Linked DNA regions of Homo sapiens. The protein of the gene in region 4 purifies or fractionates together with the protein of the main gene of each other region. This does not show direct contact. Each region holds a gene or a part of one and is shown on either strand. Other genes may lie near its edges.

The links.
Region 1: the proteins of CBS (region 4) and IREB2 fractionate together in Homo sapiens (co-fractionation; one large-scale study listed by BioGRID). This does not show direct contact.
Region 2: the proteins of CBS (region 4) and GPN1 fractionate together in Homo sapiens (co-fractionation; one large-scale study listed by BioGRID). This does not show direct contact.
Region 3: the proteins of CBS (region 4) and SEC24B fractionate together in Homo sapiens (co-fractionation; one large-scale study listed by BioGRID). This does not show direct contact.
Region 5: the proteins of CBS (region 4) and NMD3 fractionate together in Homo sapiens (co-fractionation; one large-scale study listed by BioGRID). This does not show direct contact.
Region 6: the proteins of CBS (region 4) and PDLIM5 fractionate together in Homo sapiens (co-fractionation; one large-scale study listed by BioGRID). This does not show direct contact.
Region 7: the proteins of CBS (region 4) and CTH fractionate together in Homo sapiens (co-fractionation; one large-scale study listed by BioGRID). This does not show direct contact.

The regions. Positions count from the first base shown.
Region 1 is NC_000015.10:78,444,716-78,448,215, forward strand, and holds part of IREB2 (iron-responsive element-binding protein 2), read left to right. Parts: intron 1-3,500. UniProt on the Homo sapiens protein: RNA-binding protein that binds to iron-responsive elements (IRES), which are stem-loop structures found in the 5'-UTR of ferritin, and delta aminolevulinic acid synthase mRNAs, and in the 3'-UTR of transferrin receptor mRNA.
Region 2 is NC_000002.12:27,632,050-27,635,549, forward strand, and holds part of GPN1 (GPN-loop GTPase 1), read left to right. Parts: intron 1-583; coding exon 584-621; intron 622-2,796; coding exon 2,797-2,875; intron 2,876-3,090; coding exon 3,091-3,185; intron 3,186-3,500. UniProt on the Homo sapiens protein: Small GTPase required for proper nuclear import of RNA polymerase II (RNAPII). May act at an RNAP assembly step prior to nuclear import.
Region 3 is NC_000004.12:109,461,315-109,464,814, reverse strand, and holds part of SEC24B (protein transport protein Sec24B), read right to left. Parts: intron 1,915-3,500; coding exon 1,171-1,914; intron 1-1,170. UniProt on the Homo sapiens protein: Component of the coat protein complex II (COPII) which promotes the formation of transport vesicles from the endoplasmic reticulum (ER).
Region 4 is NC_000021.9:43,073,036-43,077,120, forward strand, and holds the start of CBS (cystathionine beta-synthase), read right to left. Parts: upstream 2,801-4,085; 5' UTR 2,735-2,800; exon of another isoform or gene 1,468-2,734; intron 307-1,467; 5' UTR 231-306; intron 1-230. UniProt on the Homo sapiens protein: Hydro-lyase catalyzing the first step of the transsulfuration pathway, where the hydroxyl group of L-serine is displaced by L-homocysteine in a beta-replacement reaction to form L-cystathionine, the precursor of L-cysteine.
Region 5 is NC_000003.12:161,227,811-161,231,310, forward strand, and holds part of NMD3 (60S ribosomal export protein NMD3), read left to right. Parts: intron 1-3,500. UniProt on the Homo sapiens protein: Acts as an adapter for the XPO1/CRM1-mediated export of the 60S ribosomal subunit.
Region 6 is NC_000004.12:94,650,942-94,654,441, reverse strand, and holds part of PDLIM5 (PDZ and LIM domain protein 5), read right to left. Parts: intron 1-3,500. UniProt on the Homo sapiens protein: May play an important role in the heart development by scaffolding PKC to the Z-disk region. May play a role in the regulation of cardiomyocyte expansion. Isoforms lacking the LIM domains may negatively modulate the scaffolding activity of isoform 1.
Region 7 is NC_000001.11:70,435,268-70,437,809, forward strand, and holds part of CTH (cystathionine gamma-lyase), read left to right. Parts: intron 1-2,542. UniProt on the Homo sapiens protein: Catalyzes the last step in the trans-sulfuration pathway from L-methionine to L-cysteine in a pyridoxal-5'-phosphate (PLP)-dependent manner, which consists on cleaving the L,L-cystathionine molecule into L-cysteine, ammonia and 2-oxobutanoate.

The DNA.
Region 1 (3,500 bases), on a different chromosome or scaffold from region 4:
CTACTTTTAATAAAAATAAAGTATATGTTGTTTTGTAACCCTTTTTTTCACTTAATATATCATGAACATCTTTCCATGTCATTGAATACAGGTATCCCTTGCTATCTGAATCTACTTGGTTTCTGAGTCAGGGAGCTTGAGTTCAGGTAGAAAGGGATACCTGTACTTCTCTGTGGCTTCTAATAGCTGCACAATATTGCCTGTATGAATGCATTGTGGTTTAGTTAACAGACCTTTGAATATTGAGGCTGATAGTAACTTTTCTCTATTTATAAATAAACTTTGTATGTGCTAATACTTACATTTTTGTGCAAACTTATCATTATATAGAATTGTTGGATTGAAAGTATGTTATTTCCTCCACCCCATCACACGCTTTTATTTTTATACTTTCACTATTTACTGTTGGTTCCAGTCTTTATTTTTTTTTTTTTTTTTTTGAGACAGAGTCTTGCTGTGTTGCCCAGGCTGGAGTGCAGTGGCACAGTCTCAGTTCATTGCGTCCTCCAACTCCTGGGTTCAAGTGATTCTTCTGCCTCAGCCTCTGGAGTAGCTGGGATTACAGGCCCATGCCTTCACACCCTGCTGATTTTTGTATTTTTAGTAGAGACAGGGTTTCGCCATGCTGGCCAGGCTGGTCTCGGAACTCCTGGCCTCAGGTGATCCACCTGCCTTGGCCTCCCAAAGTGTTGAGATTACAGGCATGAACCACTGCACCCGGTCTGGTTCCAGTCTTTACCTTGGACTAAAAAGAACAAAAACTCACTCAAGTAAAAAATAGGTTGCAGTTTCCAGACATCCAAAGACAAAGGAAGAAAGCATAGTCAAGTTTCAGGGAACCAGAATTTCTAAGCCAGAGGCAGTGTTCTGTTTGTCACTTAAAGGCTGCCTGGTTTCCTTATTTTCTGTTTCTTTTTGAATATCCAGTCTTCCATCTCTACAGCCTACTTCACTTACTCATTTTTGTATAATGCCCAATATGGCCACTGCTGACCATTCTTGTATGTTATGACTGGATTACTAACCGGTTAAGAGTGTACCTCTAGGTGACTCTTTTACTTGTTTTGTTTTGTTTGTTTTGTTTTTTCCCTCAGGGTCTTGCTCTGTTGCCCAGGCTGGAGTGTAGTGGTTCGATCATGGCTCACTGCAGCCTGGACCTCCCGGGCTCAAGTGATCCTCTTTCCTCAGTCTCCCAAGTAGTTGGGACTACAAGCACATGCCATCATGCCTGGCTAAATTTTAAATGTTTTGTAGAGACAGGGTCTCCCTACATTGCCTAGGCTGGTCTTGAATCCTGGCTTCAAGTGATCCTTCTGCCTCAGCCTCCCAAAGTGCTGGGGTTACAGGTGTGATCCATTGTATCCAGCTCACCTGTTGTTTTAACCTATTTTGACTGCACTTGTCAGGAGTCTATTGCCGGTCTGGTGATCTTGCTGGTAGAGACACAAATCTGTTCATCTTGTCTTTTATGTGGACTCTTGAAAAGACTGGGTTGGGTAAGCAATGTAACAGTTTGCTTGTAATTTGTACACATAGTACATAACTTTCCAAGGATTACCTTTACCTAACATCATCCTACTAGTCCATGTATAGCCATGTGCTCACCAACCCTCCACATTTCAACTTTGTTTTTATTGCCAATTTCTATTCTAGATTAGGCCCTTTTGGTTCCAAGGAACAGACACTAGCTCGAGTGAAGAAGGATTTATTGTAATGATACAGCGCTCCCCAGGCCAATGAAATGTGGCTGTCTCTCAAGAAAATGGTGGTGGCCCAGAATTAAGGAAGTTGTTTATTATTTTCTCTTAGGAGCTTCAGATTTCTGCCCTGTTCCACTCTTCTGCTTCCTCCACTTCACTATAGACAAGCCTCCTCTGCCTGCTCACTTTGTACATGGCCTCAAATGGCAACCTCAGTCCCTAGCTTAGCTCTTAACACCTTTCCAGTTCAGTCTCTCTGTGTCCTGATTACACATTTCTGAGAGGTGAATCTAATTGCCCCAGTGTCTCCTTTCTCACAAGACTTTTGGTCATCAGCCTACCAGGGGATTGGCTTTTGCGTCGCTGCTGTAGCCAAGGAGGCCACAGGCCACCGAGAACTGTAGCAGTTTGGACAGGCACCATGAAGGACATCTGTTGTATAGTGTTAGCAAAGAATGCCAGTTTACATGCTTACCAGTGAATGAGAAGAATATGTGTTTCTGCACCTTCATCAATAGTAGATATTATTTTTCTTGTTGGCTCAATTTCTGTCAGTGAATGAAGAGAAGAAAAAAAACTTTCTTCTACATTAAATTGGGGGGTTTATTGTGAAGATTTGAAGGAAATAAGGAAATTGAGGGGATCTGAGTGCGTGGTCAGATCAGACTCTTTGTTCCCTTCAGTAGGCATGCATAGAACCCATGATTCTGGCTTAGCTGATTTTCCCTATTTCTGCTTTCCTTTCTTTTTCTTTTCTTTCTTTCTTTTTTTTTTTTTTTGAGACAGGATCTCTCTTTGTTACTCAAGCTGGGGTACAGTGATGCAGTCATAGTTCACTGCATCTTCAACCTCCTGGACTCAGGCAATCCTCCCATCTCAGCCTCCCACTACAAGAAGACACCACTACACCTGGCTAATTTTTTTTTTTTTTTTGAGACGGACTCTTGCTCTGTCACCCAGGCTGGAATGCAGTGGCACCGTCTCGGCTCACTGCAACCTCCGCCTACCAGGTTCAAGCAATTCTCCTGCCTCAGCCTCCTGAGTAGCTGGGATTACAGGTGCGTGCCACCATACCTGGCTGATTTTTGTATTTTTAGTAGAGATGGCATTTCACCATGTTGGCTAGGCTGGTCTCAAACTCCTGACCTCAGATGATCCACCTGCCTCGGCCTCCCAAAGTGCTGGGAGTACAGGCGTGAGCCACCACTCCCGCTCTGATTTTTTTTTTATCTTTTATAGAGACGGGAGTCTCCTGAACTCCTGACCTCAAGCAGTCTTCCTGCCTTGGCCTCCCAGTGTGCTAGGATTACAGGCGTGAGCCACCATGCCCGGCCCATTATTCTGCTTTTCTTTTTCTCTTGGTTCTTTTTTGTTTCCATCTGTTTTCTGCCTTCTCCCTAAGTCAAGTTCAAGGTATCACAGAACGAGGCTGAGGCAGCCTATTGGACATGACATTTGTGCTTGGCGAACTCCCTGTGCCACTGGCCAGACTGTAAATTGGTTGTCTGTTGGAAGGCTGGCTCCAGGTCCCAGCTATTCATGCCAGGATGGCAAGGCTACACAGAGCCCACCAGCAATTGGTATAGAAGGAACTTTTTAGAAAGAGGGCTGTGGTATAGGCATTCTGAGGACGTGCCAGTACAGGTGAAAAAACAAAATCTTATGCAGGAATCTGTTTTGTTTTCTGCTTCCTCAGACTCTCTCAATGGCAATGTATGTATGTATGTATGTATATATTTATTTATTTGAGACAGAGTCTTGCTCTGTCATCCCAGCTGGAGTGCAGTGGCATGATCTCAG
Region 2 (3,500 bases), on a different chromosome or scaffold from region 4:
ATGAGAAGGTGATCAGTATGGTCAGACACTTCAAATTTAATATTTGTGACAGCTAATAAAAATCCAAAAGACCTGGGTTATTTTCTTGACCTGTTCTTTGCCTGTGGTATTACCCCGAAGCTGGGATGGGGGTATTTGGGAGTGGGATGGACTAGCAGTCATGGAATGGAAAGATGATGGGGCATTTTACTTGTGATAAATATTTGTCATTCTTTAGGTTTTCTTTGTCACCTACTTCCATAAGAGTGTTTTATAATCACTGGTTTTTATACTCTGATGTTAGGCCATGAGACAGGCTGTTAACATTTTGACAAGAGATAACAACTTGACATTGACAGATCAAAGTCTTCAGCTTCTCAGATCCTTGGATTGTGCCCCAAGATGGTATTGGAGTGCTGCTGATGTGGCTGTGTTGCTTTAGTTCAGCCTGTTTATTCTTTGTTGTCCTAAGATTGCAAATGTTCAGTAGGTGATTGAGGGATTCAGTAGGTGATAGTGCCTGTGAGGTATGCCACCCTGGAGAGGGCTCTGTGATTTTGTGTTGAAATCGGAATTTGTTGTCATTGACATCTTTTTCTTTTAGGTGATGAAATTTATTGAGAAGGCCCAGAACATGTCCAAGTAAGTGATGTCAGTAACACCCATTTATTACTCTGTAGCTGACATATTTCTAGGCTTCATGGAGGATCTGGGATACCATCAGCCTCTGAAAGAATATAGATTGAGATGAAACCATTAGGAGTGAAAAAAAAATTGGCAAATCATTAAGATGCTTTAGAATATAGAGCTAAATTTAATATCATTTCATCCTCAATTACTTTGATCCCCAATTTACATGGCTTCTTAGGAGCTCTTTTGAGACTTTGTCCCAATTCAGTTGTCCACCTGCCTTCTCTTGGGAAACCATGCTTGTTGTCATTAAAGTATCTGAAATACCTTTCTAATTCTTATTTAAATGAATATAGTCTACATGGTTCAGAGAAAATTTTTTAATTTACAGAGTGTCAGAATAGGAAATATTTGTTCTTATGGCCATTACCCAGTTAGCTGTTGTTCAAGGTTTACTTTTTTTAAAAAAGATAATTTATTGTTTTATAAAAATTCAAACCATGCATGATATTTATAAGATGAAACCATCACCCCGATTCCCACTAGAAGTAACATCATCATTCAGCGACTAGCATTCCACATTTCTATATACACAGATAGAAGGATGAATGGATAAAAGTGCTTTTACAAAAATGGGGTACTAGAGGTAGCTTTTGTTTTGTTTTGAGACAGGGTCTTGCTCTGTCGCCCAGGCTGGAGTACAGTGTAGTGATCTCAGCTCACTGTAACTTCCACCTCCCTGGCTCAGGTGATCCTCCCACCTCAGCCTCCCAAGTAGCTGGGACTACAGGTGTGAGCCACCACACCTGGCTAATTTTTGTATTTTTGTATTTTTGGGATGGAGTCTCGCTCTATTGCCTAGGCTGGAGTGCAGTGGTGTGATCTTGGCTCACTGCAATCTTTGCATCCCGGGTTCAAGCGATTCTCCTGCCTCAGCCTCCTGAGTAGCTGGGATTACAGGTGGCCTGCTACCATGCCTGACTAATTTTTGTATTTTTAGTAGAGATGGGGTTTCACCATGTTGGCCAGACTGGTCTCAAACTCCTAACCTCAAGTGATCTGCCCGGCTTAACCTCCCAAAGTGCTGGAACTATAGGTGTGAGCCACTGAGCCTGGCCTGGAGGTATTTTTTTTTTTTTAATGACAGCTTTATTAAGATATAATTCATATACCATAAAGTTCACTCGTTTAAAGTGTATGGTTGTTTTAGTCTGTCCACAGAGTCGTGTGTTGATAATTACTATCTTCAGAATATTTTTGTCATCCTGAAAAGAAACCCCATACTCATTACCAATCACTCCTTATTTTCTGTTCCCTTTAGCCCCTAGTGACTACCCCATTTTCCATTCCCATTGGCAATATGATTTCTCCACAACCAGTTCCTCCATAACCTTGCCAACTTTTGTTATTCTTCTTGTTTTTGATTATAGCCATTCTAGTGGATATAGAGTGGTATCTCATTGTGGTTTTTACTTTTATTTTCTTAATAACTAATGATATTGAACATCTTTTTAATGTACTTATTGGCCATTGGTATGTATATATTTAGAGAAATGTCTATTAGAATTCTTTGCCAATTAAAAAAATTCTGATATAATTCATAATTATATCAAATTAATTCACAAAAAAGTTGATATAGTTCATAAAAACAGCTTTATTGAGATAATTCACATACCATACAATTCACCCATTTAAGGTATACAATTCAGTGGCTTTTAGTATATTCACAGAATTGTACAACTATCACCACAGTCAATTTTAGAATATTTTCATCATCTCAAGAAGTAACCTGATATTCTTCAGCTAGCACTTTCCCATTCCTCCCATTCTTCTTCCTCTGTTCCACACTCACCCCCGCCCTAAGCAACCAGATGTTTCCCAAGAGATTTACATTCTGGTTTTGTGTCTTTCATTTTAAATGCATTGTGTTTCTATAAAAGTTTCCCCTGTGATCATTTGCAGCAACTCATGGTCTGCTGTTCCTGCCCATTGGCGTGAATATTGGTCATTGAACAAAGTCTAGGGGATCATCATGTGCAGTTTAGGGCCAGTAGGAGGAAGTTAGATTTGGCAGTGTGCAGAGGTTACTCCAGTCTTGGATAACCAGATGTTTATTGTCTTATATGATGGAATATCCTTCAGCATAACACAAATGTAACACTTCTTTAATGATCTTTCTTGACATAGATATGTGTTGATTGACACACCTGGACAGATTGAGGTATTCACCTGGTCAGCTTCTGGGACAATTATCACTGAAGCCCTTGTGAGTATTCTAGGACTTGCTACTGAGAGTAGCTAGAGGGGCTAGACTGGATGAGCATTTATTTTTAATTGCCTTGGACTTTATATGGGAGGAAGTTGTAGAAGCTCTGCACACCCTGCCTAAAGTGGTTTTCCCTTGTTAAGGATGGTGGAAAAAGAGTTTGAGGACAGATCGTGAGCCCTCTGACCAAGGCTTTGATTTTTTTGTGGCTTTAGGCATCCTCATTTCCAACAGTTGTCATCTATGTAATGGACACATCGAGAAGTACCAACCCAGTGACCTTCATGTCCAACATGCTCTATGCCTGCAGGTAATTGATTGTTGGTGGGGAAAGTGTTCCATCAAGGTATAAGGCCTTTTTCTCTTCTTCTTCCTCTTTTTTTTTTTTTTTTGAATCTGGTTGCTTACCCCTGGATTTGTGCTCATTCAGATTTGCTGTTCAGTTGAGTGGCTGTGAGCTGGGGAAGGTCAGAGGAGAAAAGAGGCACATGTGCTGTTGGCATTCTCTCTCAATACCCTCTGATCTTCCTCCCTTGTTGTTACAAAAAGGTGATGTATGAATATGAACTGTCTGATAGTTGTTCCCAGTTGGATAAAATCCAAGTTTAAAGATAAAGTCCTCTGG
Region 3 (3,500 bases), on a different chromosome or scaffold from region 4:
AGAGTAGATGATCTCAAATGTACAGCTTGGGTCTAATATTAAAGTTCTAATTTTAAATAATCTCATTGTCCAGAGAAGGATATCTTTCCACAGCATCTTTGACACATGGCTATCCAGATAATGATACACAATCTAAAGGCATCATTCCAAAAGTTACCACAGCTTTACCAATTCCCATTTTTTACATGCATTTTCATTCGGTTCAAAAGCAGATTCTGTTAAATTCAAGTCACAAATTGAATTAAAATGAATATATCCTAGGGAAAGGAAACACTGCACTTAAAAAGCCACATTGGGCCAGGCACAGTAGCTCGCGTGTTCGAGACCAGCTTGGGCAACATGGCAAAACCCCATCTCTACAAAATTAGCTGGGTGTGGTGGCGTATGCCTGGTAGTCCCAGCTACTTGTGGGGCTGAGATGGGAGGATCGCTTGAGCCCAGGAGGTCAAGGCTGCCGTGAGCTGAGATCATGCCCAGCCTGGGTGATAAAGTGAGACCCTGTGTCAAAAAAAAAAAAAAAGGGCAAGCCACGTCTTACATACATAATTTTTAAATGAAAAAATTTAACAACACCTTGGTTTAGGAAGGTCAGAAGGGCTGAATACCAGGGTATTCTTCATGCATCTTCCTTTCCCTTCCCCATCTTTCAGCCTAACTTACTAATCTGAAAATGAGAAACACTGTTTACGTGCAGGAAAGATGTCTTCTGCAAAAGTCACTAATAGGGGCTAACTTGGGGAAACCAGTGCACTGCTGCAAACCATCCTTTTTTCTAAGTAAGTGGGGCTCTGGCTAAAAAAACAACTGTCCCAAGGTTGAACTAGTATAAAAGAGAAAATAGTGGCCAACATATCCTCAAAACAGACCCTTCCATTTTGCCCTGTATCTAATTCACATTAAAGACAACTATTGCAGATGTATAAAATATATCAATAAATGTTGACTGATCATGGCAAGGAACCAAGCTAGACAAGGCAGATGGTTGGGTGGCTAATTGGGAATGGATGAGAAGAAAGGGTTCAAAGAGGTGCTACAAAAAGCCACAATAAATTAGCAAACTTCCAGTTTTTCTATTAGGCAATATCACCTCTAACCTTCATGTAAATAATAACTTAATTGGGAATGCACTGATTTTCAAACATGTTTTGGTGAACTTTTCATTCAACCTACCAGTAATGGTTGGGTTGTTGTTCGCTACAGCCAGGGATCCTGTGTGGTTTCGGATGAGATTGTCTTGAGTCGATGGAAGGCCTGGAGATGACCACGTTAGAGTACTGTATCCTGAAAGACTTTGCTGCTGGTGGTGCTGTTGTGATGGTAGAGGTGGAAGTGGCGATGGATGGCTGATAGCTGTATTTTGACCAGAGAATGAATTATCTTTAACTGGCCTAACAGTCGGAGCATTCTGTGAGGTAAACATTTGCCCATATGTATCACCAGCAGGCAGAGAGGGATATGAAACACTAGGATACGCGGCATTAGAAACAGTTGACATAGCATAATGACCACAAGTAGAGGGAAATCCCTGAGACGCAACAGAAGAGCTGGCAGAGTACATGGCTGGACTATTGTAGTGATTCACAAAAGAGGAGTATGGTTGGGAGGCACTCGTATGCAAATGGGATGCTGACGATGCAGCACCTTGGAAAGATCCTAGAGTGGATCCCACAATATGAGGGGCAGGAGGACCCCTGCTGTACAACTGCTGTGCTCCTGGTTGCTGGTTCACTGTGTTAGGAGTCACATTTTGTGTTGGTACTGTATAGAGAGCAGAGTAGTAATCACCACACTGGGTATCCAATGGCAATGAGGTCATTTTCCCAGGTCCTTGAGAGTAATGTCCTGAGGGAGCAATATAGTTTTGATGATGCAATCCATATCCAGATGGAACCTGCATTTGATTCTGGGCTGGACCTGAAAAAGCAAGTATTTACAGGTATTTGTAAAGAGATAACTAATTTTTAAAAATAGCCCCCATTTAAATATTGAAGCAATTAACTTTCTTTTCCATAATCCCAACTTATTACAAAAGGTATACACTGTTATAGACCCATTATGGTAGCCTGCCTCCAACATGGCCCCCAATGATCCCCACCTCCTGTTATTCACACCCTTGTAGTCCTCCCTCACAATGTACCAGGACTGGTCTGTATGAACAGTAGCATACGGCAAAGGTGATGATATGTCACTTCCATGTTAGCCCAGTCTTGAGCTCTGGCTCTCTTTCTCTCAGATACCCCAGTCTGAAAGAAGCTAACCTGCCAAGCCGTGAACAGCCCTATGAAGAAGCCCATGCAAGGAGGAACTTAACTCTCTGGCCAACAGCCAAAGAGAAACTAAGATCTGCCAACAACCACGACTGAGCTTTCAGGCAGATCCTCCAAACTCAGTAGAATCTTGAGATAACTATAGCCCAGCCAACAGGTTATCTCATGAGAGACCCTGAGCCAGAACCACCTAGCTAGGCTGCTCCCAAGTTTATCTTCCTGAGAAACTGTGAAATAAATAGTTGTTGTTTTACAAGTTGTTAAGCTTAGGGGGTATTTTGTTATGCAGCTATCAGTAACTAATATACCCATCCTGGAAGAAGTTTAAACTTTGAGACAGGGTCTCGCTCTGACCCCAGGCTCTATAGAGTGTGATGGCTATAGAGCGCGATGGCATGATCATGGTTCACTACAGCCTTGTTCTCCTGGGCTCAAGCAATCTTCTCACCTCAGCCTCCCGAGCAGCTGGGACCACAGGCGTGCACCATGGTGACCAGCTAATTTTTACTTATTTATTTTTTACAGAGACAGGCTCTCACTGTGTTGCCCAGGCTGGTCTCCCATACACCACGGCCCAGCCAATGTTTCTAAATTTATTTTCTTGTAGAGACAGGGTCTCACTGTGTGCCCAGGCTGGTCTTAAACTCCTAGAGTCAAGTGACTCTCCTCCCTCAACCTCCCAAAATGCTGGGATTATAGGCATGAGCCACTGCACACAGCTAAAACTTTTTTCTCAGTTTTTATTTTTCCTAACTAGAAAAGTAACAATATACCCACTGTAGAAAAAATTCAAACAATAAAGAGTATGAATTAAAAATCTCTGCCTAGTAGCTTATATCCTATTTCCCAGATATAGTTACAGTTAATGCTTATGCATCCTCTGTATATCCATGTATCTATGTAATGCATATGTAAGCATGTATATAATTTACTTGATTTTTTAAACACACAAAAAGGATATTACAGTTCCGCAACTTGCTTTTACTTAATATATGCTGAATATCCTTAAGTATTAGCATATATAAATCCTCATTATTCTTTTAAAAATTTACATATAGTACTTTATTGTAGAGATATAACATTATTCACCAAATCTCCATTGATGAATATCTTGGGGTTGAACTAATCTATATTTATGAGGTCAACTTTTATGATGAAGCTATAAGACAAATTTCTAGAAGTCAAACTGGAAGTTCAAAAGGTTTATGTTTTTAAAATTGACATTATTGGCAA
Region 4 (4,085 bases):
AAAAACACACACACGCACCTGAAATAGATGAGACAGAAAAAAAAAAGAAGAAAGCAAAAAGAAAGCCAGGCGAGGTCCCATCTGCTGCCCCTCCTCTGGGGGGACAAGGAACCCACGACCACCTCCCACCTTGCCTTCTTCAGAGGGCCCAGGACTGGGCTCAGCCCCGCTTCACCCTCCTTTGATTCCCCACATTCAACAGGAAGACTAAGTCCACAGCCGTCACTCACCGGACAGATGGTGCTGACAGTTCAGCACCGCTCAAACTCTGTAAGGAGACGTGACAACAGAATCTGTCATGGGATCCTGGAATAGAAAAGGGCAGTGAGGAGAAAACTCTGCAAATCTGACTCAAGCGCGGACTTTGGTTAATGTCAACAATGGTTATGTGATCGTGGAATTGGCTCATTAATTGTAACAAATAGGCCGGGCGCGGTGGCTCACGCCTGTAATCCCAGCACTTTGGGAGGCCGAGGCGGGCGGATCATGAGGTCAAGAGATCGAGACCATCCTGGCCAACATGGTGAAACCCCGTTTCTACTAAAACTACAAAAATTAGCCAAGCATGGTGGCGCACACCTGTAGTCCCAGCTACTCGGGAAGCTGAGGCAGGAGAATCGCTTGAACCCGGGAGGGGGAGGTCAGTGAGCCGAGATCGCGCCACTGCACTCCAGCCTGGCAACAGAGCGAGACTCCGTCTCAAAAAATAAAAATAAAAATAAAAATAAAAGAAAATAAATAAAGTAACAAATATACGACATCAGTTTAAGATCTTAATAACAGGGGAAACTGGGGGAACTCTATCTATTTTTTCAATTTTTCTAAATCTAAAACTGCTCTTTTTTAAATTTTCGAGACGGAGTCTCCCTCTTGTTGCCCAGGCTGGAGCAGTGGTGCGATCTCGGCTCACTGCAACCTCCACCTCCCGGGTTCAAGCAGTTCTCCTGTCTCAGCCTCCTGAGTAGGATTACAGACGCCCGCCACCACATCCGGCTAATTTTTGTATTTTTAGTAGAGACGAAGTTTCACCATGTTGGCCAGGCTGGTCTCGAACTCCTGACCTCAGGTGATTCGCCCGCCTAGCCTCTCAAAGTGCTGGGATTATAGGAGTGAGCCACCCCGCCCGGCCTAAAACTGCTTTTTTTTTAAAAAGCCTATTAAAAAAGAAAAAGTTGCGGAAGCCGGCTGCCTTTGGAAGCCCTTGGAGTATGCTGTTCAGGTGGTCTCTGCGCACAGGCCCTACCCAGGCCTCAGCTTGGCCTCCTGGACTTCCCAGCCTCCCCTCCACCTTTGCAATTCACCAGACTGGGGGCCAAAGCGGCTTCAAACGACCCTGGAGGGTGGTGCTTTCAAGGTCTTGGGACCACGGACTTGTCTGAAAATCCGAAGGCGTTGGATCTTCTCTTCCCCAGAAAAATGCACCCGCTTTCAGAGGTTCGTGTCCCACGCTTTTCTTTCTATCCCAACCTTGTAAGAAGCCGCCGCCGTGAGCGGAGCAGCACCTTCCTCCGCGGGTCGCGGGAGTCACCTACGGGAAGGGACTCTCCGTCTGGCACAGGCCCTGTCTGGCCTGGGGCGCGCATGCTCCGCCGCCGAATCTTCCAGAAAGCCGTGGACCCGAGGCCCCGGCAGACGCAGGCGGCCCAGCGCCTTGCTTTTGGCCCCTCGCCTCGCCCTGGAGCCCTCTCTCGCAAGGTAAGGGACTGCCGGGAACGCAGATCGCAAGCCGTCGGGGCTCTGTAGAACTCAGAGGCGCTCGGCGGAAAGCTCGCCAGGCGACCCAGACCCGAACCCGCGGGCTCCCCAAGACAACAGCGCCGGGCGGCCGGATGCACGTGCGTCCCGGGAAGGCGGGTTCAGCTGGCATCGCCTGGCCGGTTCCGTTCGCTCCTTAAACCACAAGACCCCCTTGGGGTCACGACGTTCCCGGGGCACCCCTGCACTCGCGCGCCAGCACTCCCGGAGGGGCCTGGGGAAGGCCACGCGCACGGAGAGCGGGAAACTCCTCTAGGTTTCCAGGTGGGAGATCCAGACCCTACTGAGACCCGGAAACCGCCGGCCACTCCGCCTCCGGAAGCGACACTTTGGGACAAAGCTGGGGACAAGTAAGCCCAGAAGATCCTCGGGAAGCCGAGAATTTCGCGCTCCGCTCTCCCACCCACGCTCCGCCTCCCGCTTGCATCCTACAGCTCAGCTGCGGTCTCGCCTGGGGCTCAGGGAAGTGAGGTCCCAGGAAAACCTCCATCCCCCGAACGCAACCTGGGCAGAGCCCCGCGTCCCTCCCCCAGCGGGCACCCACCTCGCGTGCCGCCCGCGCAACGACAGCGTTTACCGCCACCCCACACGGTCCGCCAAAAAGGGCGATTTGCAAACAGCCATTTCCCATCCACAATGCAGCGAACTCAATGCTGGGCACCGAAACGTGCATCTCCCCCGGATTCCCACCCCGCGTCCCTGCTCCACGCTCCAGGACTCGCCGCCAGTGGGGTCCACTCCGCCGGCGCGGGGGCTGGGGTGGGAGCCCGGGGCCACGTGCACGGCCAGCCCCCATCTTCTGGGCGGTCAAGACCGCAGGCGTGGGCGCCGGTGGGGCGGGGGTCTTGGGAGACCCTGTCTCGCCGCCTTTCGGTGCAGATGATGCAACTCTGGGCGGAGGCGCGGAGAGGGAAACCGGGACCCAGTTGAGATCCTCTGTCCAGAGAGGGGAGCGAGTCTCGGTGGGGCCGGATCTCACCTGGACGGATACATGGAAAAGAGGGGCGAGCGGCTGCCCCGACTGCGGCGAGGCGGAGACGGCGACCCCGGGGTGGCGGCCTCGCGGGGACCCACGGCGAGGGGAGCAGGCGGGCGGTGATTGGCGGAGAGGCGGGGGCGGAGGCCGGCGCCGGCCAATGTCTCGTGGCAGAGCACCCGCCCCCCCAGCCCCTCCTCCACCCCACCCAGCCCGGGCCCCTCCCCCCCACCCCTTCCCCACCCCGCCGCAGCCTGGGACCCTCCGGCCTGCCCGACCCCCGCCCTCCCCGGGACCCCGGCATGCCCCCACCCCAGTCCGCCCGCCCCATTCCCACGCCCTGTTGATTCAACCGCAGACCCGGGTCGCCGCCCCCTCCCCCGCCTTCCTCTTCGCCTGAGCCCGCCCGCCCCGGGTTCCAGCCACCCCCACCCGCGGACCCCGGTGGTGTCTTCTACCTGGTGTTCCGATGCTGTTTTACTTGGTTAACTTCTTGCCCTTCGGGAATTTAAGGAACCTTTACTGATGAGCTTGAAACGTGCGTCCTGGTGGGTGGGGGGCCCTGCGCGTCCTCGAGGACCGACCCCGAGGGCGTGTGTCGCGGGCCCGGGAGGGGGCGCCGCGCCGGGGCGGGACTCGATGGCCGCGCTCTGTGGCCGCCGGACGCCGTGCGCAGCGCCCCGCGTGACCGCGCCCAGAGCCGGGTCCGAACCCCGAGCCGAGGCGCAGAACAGTCGCCTTGCGCGGCTCCGGTGCGGCCCACGGCCAGGGGCTGCCGGGCGCTCTCGGGGACGGGGCCGACTCCGCGCAGGGTGGTAGCAGGGGCGCCCCGCGGGGCTCCTTCGCCAGGTCCCGGAGGCCGCGGGCGGGGCCGTTTCCCAAACATCGTGCTCTGGACTTTCAGAGGCTGAACCTGATCCCCCCGCCCTATGGCTAAATGGGGGATCCCAGGCCCCCGAGTCTCCCCCCGGACCTGCAGCGAAAGACACGGACGGTGCCCATCAGCTCTGGGCAGAGGAACGTGCTGCGCCTCCGCAGCGTCCCCGGCTCAGGTCAGAGCGATGCTCCGCAGCCTCCTCCGGCCCGCGCAGCTCCGCCGCGGTCTCTGCCACGTGGGGCTCACAGTAGGGGAGGGAGTGAGACGTGAATTAGAATTAAATGTCCACTGGCAGGAACTGACACGAAGAACAATAAAGCCGGCGATGTGGGGAGGGGACAGGGATGGAGTTACATCATGAAGGCTCTGGAAGGTGGCATTGGAGGCCGGGATCGCGCCACTGTCCTCCAGCCTGTGCGACTGAGCGAGACTGTCTCCAGAAAAAAAAAAAAAAAAAAAAAAAAAAAAAAAAATCCT
Region 5 (3,500 bases), on a different chromosome or scaffold from region 4:
TTATATATATTCTTTTTATGAAAAGTAAAAATATCTTTTTGCTTTAAAAAGACAGAATTTAATTTTTTTCCTTTGTTATTTATCGAGAATCTCATGTATAATTTTTTAACGGAAATTTTTATGTAAAACCATCACTAAACATAATTGGGATTATAATATTAGGGCTATGTTATTTGGTTTCTTTTTATTGTCATTATTGATCTGGAAATAAAATATTTGTGCCTGTCACTGAAAGTCAGTGCATAAATGTATTAAAAAAAATAGTTTGTTTAAAGTACAGTTTATTTCCTGATATAAAATTGAAAGTGATTGACACTATGAGTTTTCTTTATTTTAAGCTTTATGACTCACTTCTACCATGTTTTTAATTGAAATTGACTCTTTCAGATTGAAGACTTTTCTGATTCTCCTTTAAGCTCTAATAAAATTTCATGTAATAGTTCTTTGAAATTTCTGCCTTTATTTTCCTACTAGGTCCCAGCCAACCCCACAAATTTCTGATGGTCACTTTTTGGCGCTTCTGGCATAAAACTTTGTCTTTTTCCCTTCATATTTTAAAAAACCTTTTTGGTTTTTTTCGCTCCCCTCTGTTCTTGGTGATTTTTACTTTATCTTCTAATCTTTCTAATGAATTGTTTTTTTCCAGTAGTAATGTTTTTAAGTTCCAGAGTCTTTCATGTTCTTGATGCATTTTTTTTAAGTTTTTCTGAAGATTTTGATAATAGGACTTTTTTTGTTTCTTTCTGTTCCCTCATTTGTCTCTGTTTTTTTATGAAGTCAGTTTTTTGTGTGTCTTGGTTTTTTGCTTTTATACTTGGGGTTTTTGTCAAATGTCTAGTGAGTCTTAACAGTTCATTAATTAATTCATCAGATGTTTATTAAGTACCAACTCTGTGCCAAACTGCTTTTGGTGTTGGGGATATGGCAGTGAATAAGGCAATCCCTGTCTTAGAAAGCGTGTATTCTAATTGCACACTAACATGCCAGTGTGGAGCAGCATGTTAGTATGCAGCGATCAAAATAGGTGGATATATTACATGGTATATTAAAAGGTATATTCTGTGGAGAAAGGAGCTAGGAAGAGGATAAGAACTGTGCATGGAAGAGTTGAAATTTAAAGTAAGGGTGTTTAGGGGAGGGCTCACTGATAGGGTGACATTTGAGTAAACACTAAAGATTACAGTAAGGGAGGAAGCTGTGCAGAAATGTGGAGGAAGAGCATTAGGGGTAAAGAAAACAAATGTAGAGACCAAAAGCAAGAGCATACTTGTGTGAATAGAACGGAGTGGTGAGGGGAAAAGTAGTTGGGGATAGAGTCCAGAAAAGTCATGGAAGGCCACAGTGTGTCTGGCCTTGTAGGCCCTTATAGGGGCTGTTTCTTACTCTGAGTGTAAGGAGTATAGAGGGTGAAGGGCAGAGTAGTGAGATGACATGACTTATTAGTATTCCTCTGGCTGCTGTTTTTAGAATGGTTGTAAGGGAGGTAAAGGTGTTTAAGTTTTTGTAATAATCATGAGAAATGGTTTTGGATCAGCAATGGAGGTGGTAAGAAGTGGACAGATTTTGGATCTATTTTTAAGGTAGTAACATTTACTGATGTAGCTGGATGTGTTTTTGTAAGAGACAGAAGAGTTAAGGATGCCTTCCACTGTTCGTGACCTGAGCAGCCAAGTCACTGGGTAGGGGGCATGAGAGTTCATCTGTAACTGGTATTTAGATGTCTACTAGACACTTAAGTAGAAATACTGAGTAGGCAGGTTGATAAATAAGCCAATGAGTGGTCCAGTCTAGAGATAATGAATTTAGGATATAGATAGTATTTAAGGTCATGAATTGGATTAGATTATTTCAGGAGTTTACATAGAGAAGGAAAGAAACTGGAGGACTGAATCCTGGAATCATTCCTTTAATGGGTAATGATGAAGAAATAATTGGGTAATGAGGAGGAATCAGCAAAGGAGACTGAAAGGAGCTGCTAGGAGGTAGGAGGAAAACAGGGTGAGTGTGATGTCCTGGGAGGAAAGGGAAGTGTTTTAAGAAGAAAGGAGTGAGTAGCTATGTGATTTGCAGCTGATGAGTCAAGTAATGAGTTCTGTAGATTTAGTAATGTGGACGACCTTAATAACATGGGCAATTTCTGTTTAGTGGTGGTGGTAAAGATGTCATTTAAATAGAAATTAAAATGGGAGAAGGAAGATAGACAGTTCTTTTGAGATTTGCTGTAAACGAAAACAAAGAAATGGGGCAGTGGTTGAAGGGGAAGTTGGGGAAGGGACACTTGTCTTTTTATGTTATTTTATTTTTTGGAGATAAGGTCTTGCTTTATTGCTCAGGCTAGAGTGCAGTGGCGCTGTCATGTCTCACTGCAGCCTCAAACTCCTGGGCTCAGGTGATCCTTCTGCCTCAGCCTCCTAAGTAGTTGGTACTACAAACATGCACCACCACACCTGGCTGATTTTTATTTTTACTAGAGGTGAGATCTCTCTCTTTCTCTCTCTTTTTGGCCCTGTAGAGCAGAGATCTCACAATATACCCAGACTGGTGTTGAACTCCTGAGCTCAAGCGATCCTCCTGCCTCAGCTTCCCAAAGTGTTGGGATTACAAGCATGAGCCACTGTGCTTGGCCAGGATACATTTCTTAAGATGGTATATATAACTGTATTTGTAAGCTCTCTGGGAGTGTTAGAGTACGGAGGGAAATTTTTGTGAAATTGCAGGGAGAAGAATAATTGGCTGGGGGGTGGCCTCAATAAGTGGAAAAGAGATATAGTACATAGTGAAAGAATACATTTATTTGTTAATTCACTCCTTCATTCAACAAGTATTCAGCACTTACTCTTCACCAAGCACCATTTTGGGAGGCTGTAATATTTCATGGAACAAAGTAAAGATCTCTGCTCTCTAGAGGGGCATTCTGGAGGTTGATCTTGATGGGAGTATGGATAATTCATCTGTGGTAACAGCAGGGAAGGTGTTGAGTGGGAGCTTCTGGGAATTCTCCTCTGGTTCCTTCTTTTGTACTGGAGAAAACAGAAGCGTGGGCAGTAGCTATGTGGGAAGAGCTGTTAGATAGATGTTTGAGGAGAGAGCGGAAGATATGAAATAGTCCTCTAGAACTAGAGGAAATGCACCAGGACAGTGTTGGATGGGTGCTGGGCAGTGCTGAGGGTTACTGTTACAAGTTTAGACTAGTCACTGTGGTGTGCATCTATTTCTGTAGTTCTGTCAGCCACATAGTCAAGGCATAGAGCAGGCAGAGCACTGGATTTAACCAAATTTATAATTTAGCCTAGTGGCTAAGGTGAAATAAGAGAGGGAACAAGGAAATTGAGTGTGTACATGAGAATAATTTTGATTATTGATTTTGAAGCTAGTGAGGAGGAATGAGGAATAAAGTTGGTAGGATGAATGGATTGTCCATTATATTAGCTTGAAAGATATTTGGTGCCCAGGAACTAGAGGAAATAAGCTGGAAAGATGGGAGGTGGTAGTCAGGGAGT
Region 6 (3,500 bases), on a different chromosome or scaffold from region 4:
GCCAACTAAGTTTGAGAATAAAATTTCTAGAGTTAGCCTGGATATGGACCTCTTTTATGCAATGTCCAACCAATTAAATACTTGCTCAATTTTCCTTCTTAAGGACTGAACTCATGGGTGTTGGGTGTTGTAAATTCACAGAGGGACTCTGCATTGATGTGAAAAGAAAACGGGAGACGTGCACTTAAGGGATTCCTTCAAGAAAGGGCACTCCCCACCCTTTTTCTGCCTAAGGGAATTTGGTGATGTTTTATTGAGCTGAAATGAGGCAATCTGTCTGCATCATGGGTAGGATTGAGAATGAGGATGTTAACTGTGACTGTGACAGAACATGAGGCAACCAGAAAAAAATATATGGTTTAGGCAGAGATGAGACTTTGACACTTCTACAAAAGAAACAAACAAAAACTTCAATTTGGTAAGTCATAGTGCTAAAAATAGTAATAACTATTACCTGAGACAATTTCTCTTCCCCACAATTTCTCTTCCCCACACATTCTTTCATGTATTTATTTCTCAACTTTACTAAACACATCAAGTCCTCACCCTCCAAAATGACTACAGGAACTGTAAACTAGGTATTATCAATTGTCTGAAACTACTCAGAAAGGTTTCATTTCACTCAAATATGACTGATTTATTTCAAAAATTTAATTTTATTGTGGTAAGAACCCTTAAAATGAGATCCACTCTCTTAACAGATTTTTAAGAGTACAATGTAGTATTGTTAATTATGGGCACAATGTTGTACAGCAGATCTCTAGAACTTATTCATCTTGTATAACTGAAATTTTATACCCACTGTGCACCAACTTCCCTCTCCCCCCTCCCCAACATGACCGATTTTTAACACACATTTGTATCAAGGTAACAAATGTTTGTAAGAGATTTTTTTCCCCATTAAATACTTTATGGTCATGAACTGATAAGATGGGCTTGGTTTGCTTGGCAGGAATCCATTATGAAGCCTTATCTAGTCATGAAGCCTGCAGAGACTAACCATTCTAGCCTCTGCAACATACTTTTCAGTAGCTATATCACACTAATTTATATTCATAGAGCAGCTTTACCTCCAAGGCACTTTTACACTTATCTAATTTGTCCATGCAACATTCCTGTGAGACAGACCAGGACAGTTATTATGAATTCAGTTTAACAGATGGAGAAGCCAAGGTACAGAATGTTCAAAAGATATGACAAATATCATAAAATCACTGACCCAGCCAAGGCCAGAAGTTGAATTTCCTGATTTCTAGTATGCCGCTCTAGTCAACTGATATTCTGCCTTTGACCTCATTAACATCACTTATCATCCCTAAGCGACCACATGGTAATTGTTGGTAAGCATCAGACACCAGACTTCCAGGCAGATTATTAACAGGAGAAGTCATAGCAATGAGTATCGCAAAGTCACAGCATTTTTAAAATTCTGACAATAACATAAACCTTGCTATTCAATAACTATCTCCCACTGTAAATTCTTTGTCACCATATTGATGTTTACTCAGAATCAGCACCTAATTCTGCAAGAGTCACAAAAGGAGAAAGGCTCTTGATGAGTGATTAAAAATTTTTACGTGGGGTGTAAGAGGGTATTTTCTAGCCCTACTTTTTGTTAACTTGTTTCTTATTAATAACATGATGCCATTTTGTATAAGCTAGTACATATCATTCTCTTAAGTTTGAGATAGGCAGTTTATTATTATTATTTTTAAAACTTTAGGGTACCATAATTTTGTTATGACTAATAAGGAATGCCTTTGTTTACTAATTCCTGCCAGAAAAGAAAGGCTACAGATCACCTATTCTGTAATCGAATATATTACTTTTGGTAAGTGGTCCATCATTTTCAACTGACTTATAAAATAACAATCCTATTCAACGAGTTCCTTCATCTAATTTTCTCAGTGTATGTTTGGCAAGTAGTTTATCAGCAAAGATAAACCAGGAATCACACTGCTCAAAGCCAGACAAAGTTTGATGAGTGCCCTGTGTTTTTCCGCCAGGTGGGCAACTGGTTATACACGCATGAAAAATCTTCCAGGCTCAATTTACTGTGACCATAACACAGAGCATGGTAGAGCTTTGGGGTTTCATGCTACTCTCTGGCTGCACATTAAAACAGATTCAAAGCCATTTACTAGGGTGAGTTTTTTACTAGGGCACATCTTTAGCTCATCCATAAGGCTGGAGGACTCTTGAGGCTAGTATTCTTATTTGGCTTCTCAGTTTTCAAAGAAGTCAATCCAACTTCAAACTGCATTCTGTTAAAGCATAAGTGTTGGTATGTACCTGGAACAAAATGAAAAGCTCTGCTCCTGGAACATGTCTATCAATGCTATCAAATATTTGACAAAGTTCATCTGAGAAGAAAAAAAGACATTTAAGAATAACTGACCAAGGAAAATACATTCCATTTGCCAGATTTTCTAAAATATGTATTGAGTTCAAGTCAGATCATCAGAAAACTGGGTTCTGTGAATCACAGCATATTGGGCCTGCTGCACCCCGCAGGATTATTCCTTTTATGAACGGTGCTTGTTGTGATACATGAACCTGTACTGGTAGTTGTTACAGGACACAGCTCTATGAAATTCACCCTTGCTCTTCCTGCAAGTTGTTGCTGGAGTGTTGTTAGATCTCATCCAGCGTCACTTTCACATGGTCTCATTCAGAAAAATTCCTCCCTGATTTCTGCAGCAAGAACTATTATGCTTTTCCTCAGCAGTAGTCTTATTTTTATCTTATTGTAAATTGCAAAACTACCTTTCATTTTTGGTAGACTACTAGAAGGCCTAAAGCCAGATTTACAGTCTAACCAGAGGCAAGTGGGCAGGTCATTATTTTAGTATCGTCCAGTCTCGACGTTAGCTTCATTTTTAACGAGCCTATCGATGAATTTCATTCTTTTTCCCCTTTTGTAATTTATAAGATTATCTTATATTTCACATACCTGTAAAAGTCTTTTTACAAACTTGCTGGAATATAGTTCACTATAAATACATAAATTAAAACTACAGTCCATTAAAAGGATGACTTTAAAATATTTCATTAGTTCCTTTCAAATAGCAAAAGGAATTTTAGACAGTAAAGAAATTCCCACTGCACCTTTAAAAAACAAGCTGAAAATGACCCTTGCTCCTCTCAGATCTCCTTTCTTAAACAAGCATGCTCAGGGCAACTACTGGCCTAACTTGATACTTCTTGGCTGTCCTGAAAGAGCATCTTTCTCCATCAATGCCCTTGAAATTATGCACAGATTAAACAATAAAATTAATCTTTCACATATAGCAAAGTGTTTTCTTCTCTGTGTCAGCAAAGACTAATTTAACAAATTCATTAACACAGGATTAACACTAAAGAAGTTCTTCTTGTTCCAGGTAGGATTGGGTTTCCATTTGTGAACAGGAATGACAGGCCTAGATAACTGCAGAGTGGAATTAAGTATTCAGCTATCTCTTCTAGTATTCGATGTCCTGTGAGCCCTTACTAAGTACATG
Region 7 (2,542 bases), on a different chromosome or scaffold from region 4:
AGATATTTAACAATAAGAATAGCAGGACATTAATCAGAATGGACTCTAACCCTGTCAAGATGGAGACCCTGATAAAATCTCATGGAGGGCTTCTTGTTAGTGAGCGGTGTCCTCCCAAATGTTGCTTCCTTCCCTGCTCTGTCAAAAAGAGATTCCAGCAGTAACTGTATTCTAGGATCTCTGATCTCTGACCTCTAAGCAAGGGCCACATGTTCTACCCTACTCAGCCTTAGAGGGGATTGGAGACTTTGTACTAGAAAAGCTGTTTTCAAGGCTCTTTGGGAAACAGAAAATGTGTCTCTGATGAAACTCCTCCATGCCCTTGATTGTTGGAGAACAGCCCTACTAGATACTGTCAAATCTTTTGTTTTCTGTTCTCTGTAGGATAAACCTTTAATGTCTTCATGTTGTGTACAAGATAAATCCAAACCCTAACTTGGTACCAGGCCCTTCAGTATCTAACCCAATCAATTCATCTAGTTTTTTCAAAGCATCAGAGGATATTGGTACAAGAAGCAGTCTAAGATCATACAGTCCAGCAGCTTATTTTACAGGCAAGGAAACAAAGATCCAGAAAGTTGAGCTGATTGACTCAAGTGTCACACAGGAACGTGTTCGCAGCTTCACTCTTGGATTTGCATCAGAAACAGTGAGGGGAGGTAAAAGGTGCTTGGATCTAGATTTGAGATCTGCTTCCACCAATTAGTTAACCTTTAAACTTCCATTTTTTAACACATAAAATGAGATTAATAATTAATGATTTTCGGCCTGGTGCAATGGCTGACGCCTGCAATTCCAGTACTTTGGGAGGCCGAGGTGGGCCACTTGAGGTCAGGAGTTCAAGACCAGCCTGGCCAACATGGTGAAACCCTGTCTCTCCTAAAAAAAAAAAAAATTATCCGAGTGTGGTGGTGTACACCTATAATCCCAGTTACTTGGGTGGCTAAGGCACGAGAATCGCTTGAACCCAAGTGATGGAGGTTGCAGTGAGCCGAGGTTGCAGCAAGCCAAGATCGCACCACTGCACTCCAGCCTGGGTGATGCAGCGAGACTCTGTCTCAAAAAAGAACCAAAACAACAACAAAAAATTAATGATTATCATTTATTGATTACCTGTCCCCCCAAGCATTCCTGATATATATATTACCTTTATTATATGCTACTATGACCATATGTTGTAATTACTGCAGGGTTAAGTCAACATCATAACCTAACTATTTTTAACTGTACTAAATGTATACGGTGTATTTCTGTGTCTTCATTTTTATAAACATTTATGGAATAACTTGTTTTGCAAGCATTGTGTGGAGAAATGTCAGGTCCCACCAAAGTTTAGGCCTATTTTCTGTCTTTGTATAGGAGTTTACAGTTAGACCAAAAGTCAGGCAGTCTCACCAAGTTAAAAAAAAAAAAAAGATGTCTAAATAATGACTTGAAATAATTCATGTAACGCAGATTTTTGTTAGTCTTTCCGGAAGATGCCTGCTAGTAAGTTTGGATGCACAAGAGGGCACACTCAGCATGTGAAATGGGTTTGTTTTTCACAGTAATGAAATGTGTATTACGTTAAGACTCTCTTGTTTAAAAAATTGTCTTAAAATAAATCTCTCCTGATTTATTTAGGGATTTTTGTTTAAAGTTGCTTGGCCCCCAGACACTCTGGTTTAGGCTATAACCCCGATGCCAGAGGATGAGTGGATTTAGGTCAGGGCTTGTCTGTTCTATCACCCTTCATTCTGTGTCTCCCAACTCTGCTGCTACTAGTGCAGCATTGCAATATGGGAGGAAGGAAGTGAAGCTAATGTGTATTAGCTTAGTCTCCCAGCCTCACAACACATGTAACTCTGTGACCTTAGAAAAGTTACTCATCCTCCCTAAATCTCAATTTCCTCAATTTTAAAATGTGGACAACACTCTACATAGCTCTTAGGTTTGTTGCGAGAACATGGGGAAAAAAATCCCTAAGCTAATGCCTTCGTTCATACTAAGTACCCAATAAACGTTAGCACCTACTATGAACTATTATCTTTTATTAGACATCTCTACTACATTCCAAGTGCTTAGAAGTGCTTTATACATGTTCCTTCAAATTAATGTCTGTGACAAACCTTTAAGACAGGTGTTATATCCAATTTTTATTCATTAAAAAAATGAATTAATGCACACAAACCACCTAGTAGAGTATCTGTCTCATGGTAAGCACACAGTAGATGCATCTATTATTATTTCAGATAAGGAAATAGGCACTGAGGATGAGTAACTTTTATAAGGCCACATAGGCAGTATGTGGAAGGGCTAAGATTCATACCCAAGTTTGTTGGTCTCTGAGACCTGAGTTCTTATTTCTACATGTACACACTCTTTTAAGGAATTACGAGTCTCCCAGGGCAGAACATTTTAAGATGGATGTTTGTATCTAAACAACACTTTAGTAAAGTGACAAAGGAAGATATCCATCACTCAGACCACAGCTGAGATTTTTTTTTCCCCATGGCTCTCATGTAAGAGAGGAGAAAGCAGCTTAGGTATTGATTTTGCTGGT